Regions from separate parts of the Homo sapiens genome. Here region 1 is linked to region 2. The links come from fine-mapping of genetic effects on gene expression. Tissue or cell type: whole blood. Region 2 holds a variant in brackets; the other region holds the start of a gene. All regions are shown on one strand. Distances are from middle to middle. Region 1 holds the start of CD83 (CD83 molecule). Region 2 holds the start of LOC105374939 (a long non-coding RNA gene).

The links. PIP is the estimated chance that this variant, and not a neighbour inherited with it, causes the effect. A credible set is the group of variants that fine-mapping cannot tell apart.
Region 1: CD83 starts here. The variant in region 2 is the best candidate, but not a certain one, in a credible set for the expression of CD83 in whole blood (INTERVAL, PIP 0.89).

The regions. Positions count from the first base shown.
Region 1 is chr6:14,116,099-14,120,344 of GRCh38, forward strand. CD83 (CD83 molecule) reads left to right here and starts at 1,674. Exons shown (of 5, transcript NM_004233.4): 1 at 1,674-1,750; 2 at 1,852-1,967. The coding sequence starts at 1,714. RefSeq lists silencers at 1,000-1,294, 1,422-1,541 and cis regulatory regions at 1,037-1,945, 1,285-2,101, 1,285-1,940, 2,106-2,606, 2,177-3,003 and 1 more.
Region 2 is chr6:14,094,324-14,098,843 of GRCh38, forward strand. It overlaps LOC105374939 (a long non-coding RNA gene), which reads left to right and starts at 4,311. Exons shown (of 3, transcript XR_926500.3): 1 at 4,311-4,444. RefSeq lists enhancers at 12-141, 1,035-1,164 and a cis regulatory region at 1,013-1,513. The variant C/T (reference allele first, on the strand shown) is at 1,839.

The DNA of each region.
Region 1 (4,246 bases), 22 kb after region 2:
AAAAAATTAGTCGGGCGTGGTGGCGGGCTCCTGTAGTCCCAGCTACTCGGGAGGCTGAGGCAGGAGAATGGCGTGAACCCGGGAGGCGGAGCTTGCAGTAAGCTCAGATCACGGCCACTGCACTCCAGCCTGGGAGACAGATCGAGACTCCGTCTCAAAAAAAAAAAAAAAAAAAAAAAAAGAGGGTCTCGAAAATGTTAGTACTGTTTTATTTCTCAAGAATAAATTGTATACAGATGTGTTCAATTCCATATTTTCTATACTTATTTTGTATGCTTAACATTTTCACAATTAAAAAATTAATTTGGTGAGGCTGCTGGAGAAAAGGTACTCACACAAGCTGGCGGGACTGTCAATTGATATAACTACTTCCAAGAGCAGATTAGAACTGGTGGTATAGTGATGCCACTCTTTTTAACCTCTTGGATGGACAAAGATAGAAAGGTTGGATAACAGTTTGTGTTGGCAAACAGGCACTCTCTTTGCAGATGGGAATATAGATTGAAGACACCTCCTTGCAGGTAATTTTTTGGCAATATTTGACAAAATTGGAAACTCCCCTTCACCTAGCACAATTTCCTTGAGGTATTTATTCTAAGAAAATAAGCAATTTTAGAGCAAAGATTTATCTACACTGAAGTTTCCCATAGCAATCACAGTATTGTTTCTAATATTAGTAATACAAAAAGAAACAACCTGTATGTCTAACACTAATCGATTCTAATTTATGGTGCAACTGAACAATGGACCAAAATGATGCTGTTGGAAGTTTTTAATGATGTGGAACCGCTTGCAAATTATTAAGCTAAAAGAAAGTAGGTTACAAGATAGCAGGAAGAATAAACCATTAAAAATACCAATCTGTGCACTGACAAATGTTATAAATATTTTACGTTATGTTATGTTATAAACATTTTATAATATAAAAAAATGTTAACTGAAGTTACTTCCTGGATGAATTACAGGTGATTTCATTGTCTTCTAGAATTTTCTTTTCCAAAAATGTTGTGTATGCGTGTAATTATTATTTTAATAGGAGACACTCTCCTTTGGTGATATAATTTAAACAGGACGGTACTGACTGATAACCTCCCGGGGAAGGCAGGGAGCCAAGTACTACAGACTTGTATGTTTCCATGGAAATCTAACGCGCCTTTGATTATCACAGATTCTGGAGAAGAGTGAGGACTTGGGTTCACCAGTGCGTTCCCAAGGACAGGCTGGGCTTCTGAGGAAGTTGCCCACCCTCTCGGAATCTGGTTTGGCCTCCGTAAAATGGGCAGATCCCGCTCGGATGGCCCGGTTCCCGGCTTCCTTTTGCGGGTCAACGGCAGCGTCACGCGCGCGAGCGCGGTCTGCAAAGCCCCCAGCGCTGGGCGTCACGCGGGGATTGCTGTCGCCGCTGCCAGCCGCAGCAGCGACGCGAACTCGGGGCGCCCGGCCCGGGCGCGCGGGGGCGGGGACGCGCACGCGGCGAGGGCGGCGGGTGCGACGGGGGCGGGGACGGGGGCGGGGACGGGGGCGAAGGGGGCGGGGACGGGGGCGCCCCGGCCTAAGCGGGACTAGGAGGGCGCGCCACCCGCTTCCGCTGCCCGCCGGGGAATCCCCCGGGCTGGCGCGCAGGGAAGTTCCCGAACGCGCGGGCATAAAAGGGCAGCCGGCGCCCGCGCGCCACAGCTCTGCAGCTCGTGGCAGCGGCGCAGCGCTCCAGCCATGTCGCGCGGCCTCCAGCTTCTGCTCCTGAGCTGCGGTAGGGCTCGCGAGCGCCTGTCTCGCCTGTCGCCCCCCGCCCCTCCACGACACCCCCTCCCGTCGGTCGCTTGCTCACGACGCGCTCTCTCTTTCTTGTAGCCTACAGCCTGGCTCCCGCGACGCCGGAGGTGAAGGTGGCTTGCTCCGAAGATGTGGACTTGCCCTGCACCGCCCCCTGGGATCCGCAGGTTCCCTACACGGTCTCCTGGGTCAAGGTAGGTGCTGCGATACCCACGGGCTGGGGTTTGGTGGGCTCATTTGAAGACAGCAGGAACCATCTCCCCTAGGCTGGCGACCCTCTGTGGCTGCCAGGTGGGGGCGAGGGGCGTCTCCCGCAGCTGAACTTGGAGTACCCAGCCTCCCGTCGCGCCTCCCCCACCCCATCCGCATCCAGGTACAGGGCCGAATTAGGTTTTGCTCTCCGCAGACCTCAATCCCCTTCCTGTCACTGAAGGTGGCCTGAGATGAATGATCCACTTAAGATGTTTTGGAAGGGCAGAGACTCTCATTTGGATTAATTCTGGAGGCCACCTGTGGTTGTGGGCCAGCAGGTCAGGAAGAAAGCAACAGGGACCTAGATTTGGGCATTGGACAGGGGGAATGTCTCCAGACTTCTGATTTCTTGTGTTTTGTGACTGTGATGCCCATGATACATGGGAGGGGGAGGGGGCAATTTGAAAGGAAAGGCTAAGACACAGAAGTGACTTAGGCCATTTCATCCATGGTAGTTATCAGTGGTCATCTCCTTTGTGGGATACCCTTGGCTTCCTCCCCTAGCCCTCCTCCTCCTTCCTCTGGCAGCCTTGAGAGCATCAGGTGGATGCATGAGCCGGAGCCCGCATGTGTAAGAACAGGCCTTGCTGCTCCTACTGTAAGTGGACTGAGTGACAAGGAGGCTTTTTCAAGGTTTCCTCTTGACTGAAACATTCTCAGATTCTAAGATGGCAATGATGGTGTCATTCCAAAGCCAAGCAGCTACTGTTTGATATCACTGGTCCTTCTTTAAGTCAGGCCACTGCTACCACAGCACCTCCATTTTAACCCAAATGAATATGATATTACAACCTTACTCTGTAGCTCTCACTGATTTGCTGTCTTACCACGGGGGCAAATCTCTGCACTTGTAGCTTTCCCCAAAATGCAGGGCGTTCTTCTGCCCACCATAAAAGATACTATAAGAAACTGTACGTCTTTGGCCACTTAACAGTACAAGGCATCATTGCGGTGATCTCTTTGTGTGTGTGTCTCCTAACTGGATGGTCAGTTCCCTGGGGGGCAGTGGCTGTATCCATACTTCTGTGTATTCTTCACGGCACCTAATTTTTGCCCTATAAATTGCAAAGGTGCTCTGTGAATTCAGCCCAGCACTTCATGAGTTATGCATGACGGGGATGGTGCTGCTGCCTCAGAGCATTGTATTGTGTATAAAAGTAAGGTGTTAAATATTCCTACTTCATTGGTACCTTACTTACTGTGGGATCAGAGAACACAACAATTCCGAAATTGTTCTCATAGTCAAAACAATAGTATTTTTAAAAATATTGTAAAAACAATTTTTGAATGCTCACCACGTGCCAAGCTCCAAGGTAAATATTTACATACATTATCCATTTCCATCCATCGGAAGAATGGACTTAGGGATTAGTACTGTTACTATTCCTACTTTACAGGTGAGGAAACTGAGCCTTAGGGAGGGAAATAACTTGTCCACTTTTGCACAGCTAGCTAAATGGTGGAGTTGGGATTTGAACGAAGCAGTCTGATTCCAAATCCTGAGTTGTTAGAGGTCTATCTTGATCTCTGTTTTCTCCCTTAATAACTTAAGATAAAGAAAATCAAAGTGCCCCTGGGCTAACCAGGCAGGGACTTAGTTATCTCAAAGAACGGGGAAAAACATGAAACCACTATCCCTTCCAGAGAGTAACTATTTAATAAAGAAAACATTATTAATACCCCCAGGGGAGTAATTAAAAAGTACTCATGAAACAAGTAGATGAAATTTCAGGCTGTGAAGTTCAAACAGTTCTGGAGTGAAAGCTTCTTGCACAGGGTCATTTGGAATGGTCCACTAAACCATAGCAATTAACCTTGGACTTCTCCTTGGATGTCAGCTGGTGACGTAACTCGGTAACGCATGAGCTTGTTTATTGGACAGAATTCTTGCGAGATTTACCCCCAAGGTCTTTGAAAGCTCTGTCAAGAAAAAAAGGGACAGCAGTCTCTAGGCGTTCTTTTTTTCCTGTTGATCCATGGAATAGTGCCAATGAAAAGTCATACCGTAGTTATTTTTTGAGAAGTAAATGGTGATTGAGATTCGTGGGTAGGAGAGTTATGCTATACCAATAAACGAATCAGGTGCCTCGAAAGTGACATATATTGTTCCTTTAAGCATTTTTTTTAAAACAGCTCTCAGCATGTTCTGTAGATACTTATTATTTTCCAGCCCAATAATTATACTTTTTCATTGATTATGCTTATACAACAAAAATGGATA
Region 2 (4,520 bases):
GGCCAGGCATCACAGTGCCACAAGTGAAAAGACCCATGACTGCCTTTATAAGTAAGTTCTTCTTTTGGTTTCTCTGGCAGGAGGCAGATGGAGGAGGAGAGAAAGGCCAGAGGTCTGTTTTGGGGTTGTTGTCTCTGGTTGTCTAAGTCATGCCAAGACACCACCCCTTGGAGCCTGGTTCCTGACATCCGGCAGCATGGCATACTTGAAGGGCATGATGTGGGGATAACAACAGAGCCCTGGCTGAGTCCGGTGGCTCACGCCTGTAATCCCAGCACTTTGGGAGGCCGAGGCAGGCGGATCACCTGAGGTCAGGAGTTTGAGACCAGCCTGGTCCACGTGACAAAACCCTGTCTCTACTGAAAATACAAAAAAAGTTTGCCGGGCATGGTGGCACACACACACACACGCACGCACACACACACACACATGCCCCCATAAGCATCCCAGTATTTGGAAGCAATCAGTTGATTTTTTTTCTTTTTAGAATTCAGTTTGGTGTTATAGGGACACTGCTAGCCTCAGGCAGTGCCGCAAGAGCAGATCAAGGCTCTGATTAAAAAATTCCTCAGTTGCTCCCAGCTGGAGATGTCTGCTTACAAAGCCCTTACAAAGAAATGTTTTTCAATAGGCAACATTCTCTGGTCTGGCCCCACCAAGGAAGTACAGCAGGAAATCTCACAGGCATCCCGATTGCCATTGCCCTCCTGCTCCCAGACACACACTTGGCCCCAACTGGCCTCTGACATGCTCCATGGGGAGCAAAATGGACTTGCTCCATTTTATCCATTGCTCTGGGCTCCACGGTGTTAAGCATGATGGCTTGGAAACTCTATATACCCAGTAAATGAATGCTTGTTGAATAACTTAATGAACACACCCCATGTCAGCCTATCTCCTCAATGCACATCCGCCAGCCACCTCAGCTCAGGCACCTCGCTGATTTTCAAAACATGGGCTAAAAGCTACCATAGGGCATCTAATTATACCTTCTGGTGTAGAAGGTGTTCTCTCATAGGAGGCCTTAGCCAAGTTTGAGAACAAGGACTTTGTATGGAATGAGCTGCATAATGGACAGCACTGGCTGGACCAGCCATTGGGGGTGTCTCTGGCTGAAATTTAACAAAGTTTCCATAGACCTTTTACCAGATTTACTGAGAATGTTGATTTCCTCTATTAAAGCTTAAACGTCAATTCAGGGGAATTTCCCCATAAATGTTGTGAGACTAAACGTGGCTTCTTGTGGGTTCCACATGGGAGCTCACCAGGATGTTGCCCAGCCTTTGTAAAGGTCTGCCTGGTTTCCTGTACCTAGTGGTCAACGTCAGCAGCTGTACCTGTGCCCAGCATTGGGAGGCTCGTCCTCGGCCCTCACCCGGCCATAGGCAGTCAACATCACTAGTTCTCCCCTGCTTAGCACCCAGTGGCTGCCTTTTTGGCCTCTAAACTTGCTTCCCTGTGTTCTTGATCCCTGAAGCTCACCACTGGTCCACCTGCCAATTACTCACTTTAATCTTATCAGAGTAGATACCCAGGTTTTACATTTCACCCAACAGAACTTGAGTCCTAATTCTCATTTCCTTCCTTTCATCCATGAGCTTTACATGGGAATTTGCATTTACAGTTATGCCTGTGAATTCAGAGGCCTCCCCTGGACCAGGCGGTCATGTGCTGAGTGAGGCGGGTGACCAGCTTGGAAGCCAGGGCGGGAAGTTCGCATGGCCCTCTGGGTGAATCCTTTGCTTCCCTGCTTTGGAAGACAGCTGGCTGCAGAGCAAGAGTTCTCTTGTGTGAGGCCCATGGCAGTGTCGGACCCTAAATGGCCATTGGAACACACC[C/T]CCAGGTTTCTAGCTGCACTGGGTAGGGGTGGGTGAAGGAGAACTGAGGGCGCGTCAGCCTCTCCTGCCTGGACAAAAAGGCATGTAGGTCACAGTTCTCCCCAGGTGTTCTCAAGTCTTGCTTGTTTGTTGTCAAGAGAAGGCAGAATTCTGCCTTGAAAAAAACCTCTGTGATGGCCATTTAAACAGCCTGTGGATTGTTTCCAGGCCTGAGCACTGCTGGAGGAGGATGCTGGCTTACAGAGGCCTCTCCAAAGCATCAGTCTTTGGACTCCCAGGAGCACTATTATTAGCCTCCCTTCACATTCAGAAGGCGCCCACCCACAAGAGTGGGTGGATATCAGGGTCTGGGCCCACATCTTCTGACTCCAAGTCTGTGTATCTTGCTACCATGCAGCTGATTTCCCAGTTGCTGAGTTTTCTCTGTGCACATCTTGATGGCTGATACCTGTAATAACAGAAACTTCGTTCAACTCTCATAAACCCTGAGTCTGGAGGTCTGGGACATATTAGGCCATACGAGGGGGCTTAGCTTGCTTTCTGTCTCTTTCTCTTCCACCTGGAACATAAGTTGTCCCCTAGGTGAAGGCCGTCTGCCACACTGACTGTGTAATCTGAACTTGGAGCCAGAGGTTCTGAGTCTTAGCGCCGCCCTTGCTATTATCTTCCAGCATGATTTTTGGGCTTGTGCTTTCACTCTACTGAGACTCAGATTCCACACCAATAATAGAGAGATTTGAACTAATGTATCCATTGAGATGGTTTGAATGCATGTTACAGAAAACCTAACTCAAGCAGGCATAGGCAAGAACTTGAAATAATTAGTTCATGCAATTCATTAAAAAGGGCAGGGGCTTGATCCAGGGGCTTGAACAATATTTCAGGAACTGGTCTGTTCCCCTCTTAGCATTGCTCTCTTCCTTCCATTTCGGCTTCATTTCAAGGCTCCACATGATGCCAAGAGGGCTGCTGGTTACTCCAGGTCTACTACCTCCCAGATGCTAGTGCAAGGAAAAAGAGGAAGATGGCCTCTAACAGTGGCAGCTAAAGGCTATGAAAAATCACTGACTCAGTTGTGTTAAGCGCCCACCCCTAGGCCAGGCCCCATGGCCAGAGAAATGTGGTACTCCGAATGGACAGGACTGTCACATGCCCACCCCACATATGGGTGGGGCCCATGAAACACACATGGGAAAAGGATGTGGGATGCGTGCTTTCCCCCCAAAAAAGCAGGGCATGGTTGCCCAAAGAATGGCAAATAGGTACTGGGTGTTAAGCTTCATTACTGATTTAATTTTATTGTTTGCCAGGTAGAATGTGAACATGCTTTCAAAAGTCAAAACAATATAGAAAAGCATGCTCAGGCTGGGCCCAGTGGCTCATGCCTGTAATCCCAGCACTTTGGGAGGCCGAGGCAGGCAGATCACCTGAGGTCAGGAGTTCGAGACTAGCCTGGCCAACATGGTGAAACCTCATCTCTACTAAAAGTACAAAAATTAGCTGGGTGTGGTGGCCAGTGCCTGTAATCCCGGCTACTCGGGAGGCTGAGGCAGGAGAATTGCTTGAACCTGGGAGGCAGAGGTTGCAGTGAGCCAAGATCTACCACTGCACTCCAGTCTGGGCAATAAAAGTGAAACTCTGTCGAAAGAAAGAAAGAAAGAGAGAGAGAGAGAGAGAGAGAGAGGAAGGAAGGAAGGAAGGAAGGAAGGAAGGAAGGAAGGAAGGAAGGGAGGGAGGGAGGGAGGGAGGGAGGGAGGGAATTAAAAAGAAAAGCGTGCTTTTTCCATCCTATTCCCTCATACTCCTTAGAGGAAAACAACTACAAGATTTTTTGGATTTTTCTTCCCATGTTTCTTTTTGTAGAGAGAAGCTCAAGAAGCTTGTCTTTGTAGAGACAATATGGGTGGATCACGAGGTCAGGAGATCGAGACCATCCTAGCTAACACGGTGAAACCCTGTCTCTACTAAAAATACAAAAACAAAAAATTAGCTGGGCATGGTGGTGGGCGCCTGTAGTTCCAGCTACTCGGGAGGCTGAGGCAGGAGAATGGTGTGAACCCGGGAGGCGGAACTTGCATTGAGCCGAGATCGCGCCACTGCACTCCAGCCTGGGCGACAGAGCGAGACTCCGTCTCCCCCCCAAAAAAAAGAATACTCAAGTCTCATTATTTCCCTTCTTTCTTCACAAAAGATATCCCACTCTATATACTCTTTTGTACCTTGCCTTTTCACTTAACAGCGTCTCCTGGAAATCATTCCATATCATTTCACAGGGATCTTCCGCATACTTTTTATATCTGCTTAGTACCTCATTGCATGTGTGTACCATATTTTATTCAAGTACTCTATACTTAGGCATTTAGGTAGCTTCCAATATTTTGCAATTATAAAAAATTGCTGCAATGAATAACCTTGGGCATTTGTATTTTTACGTAGTGGAAGGGATATATTTGGGGCAAATTTACAGAAGTGGAATTGCTGAGTGGAAGGGTACATGCATACGTGGTTTTGTTAGATGTTGCTGAGTTCATCTCCACAGGGGTTGTGCCGTATCACAGTCCCACCTGCAATGTACCAGAGAGCCTTTTTCCTTAGCCTCACCAACAGTGCGTATTGTTAAGCTTTTGAACTTTTTTTTTTTTTTTTGCCAATTCAATGAGTTAAAAATGTGCATTTAATTTA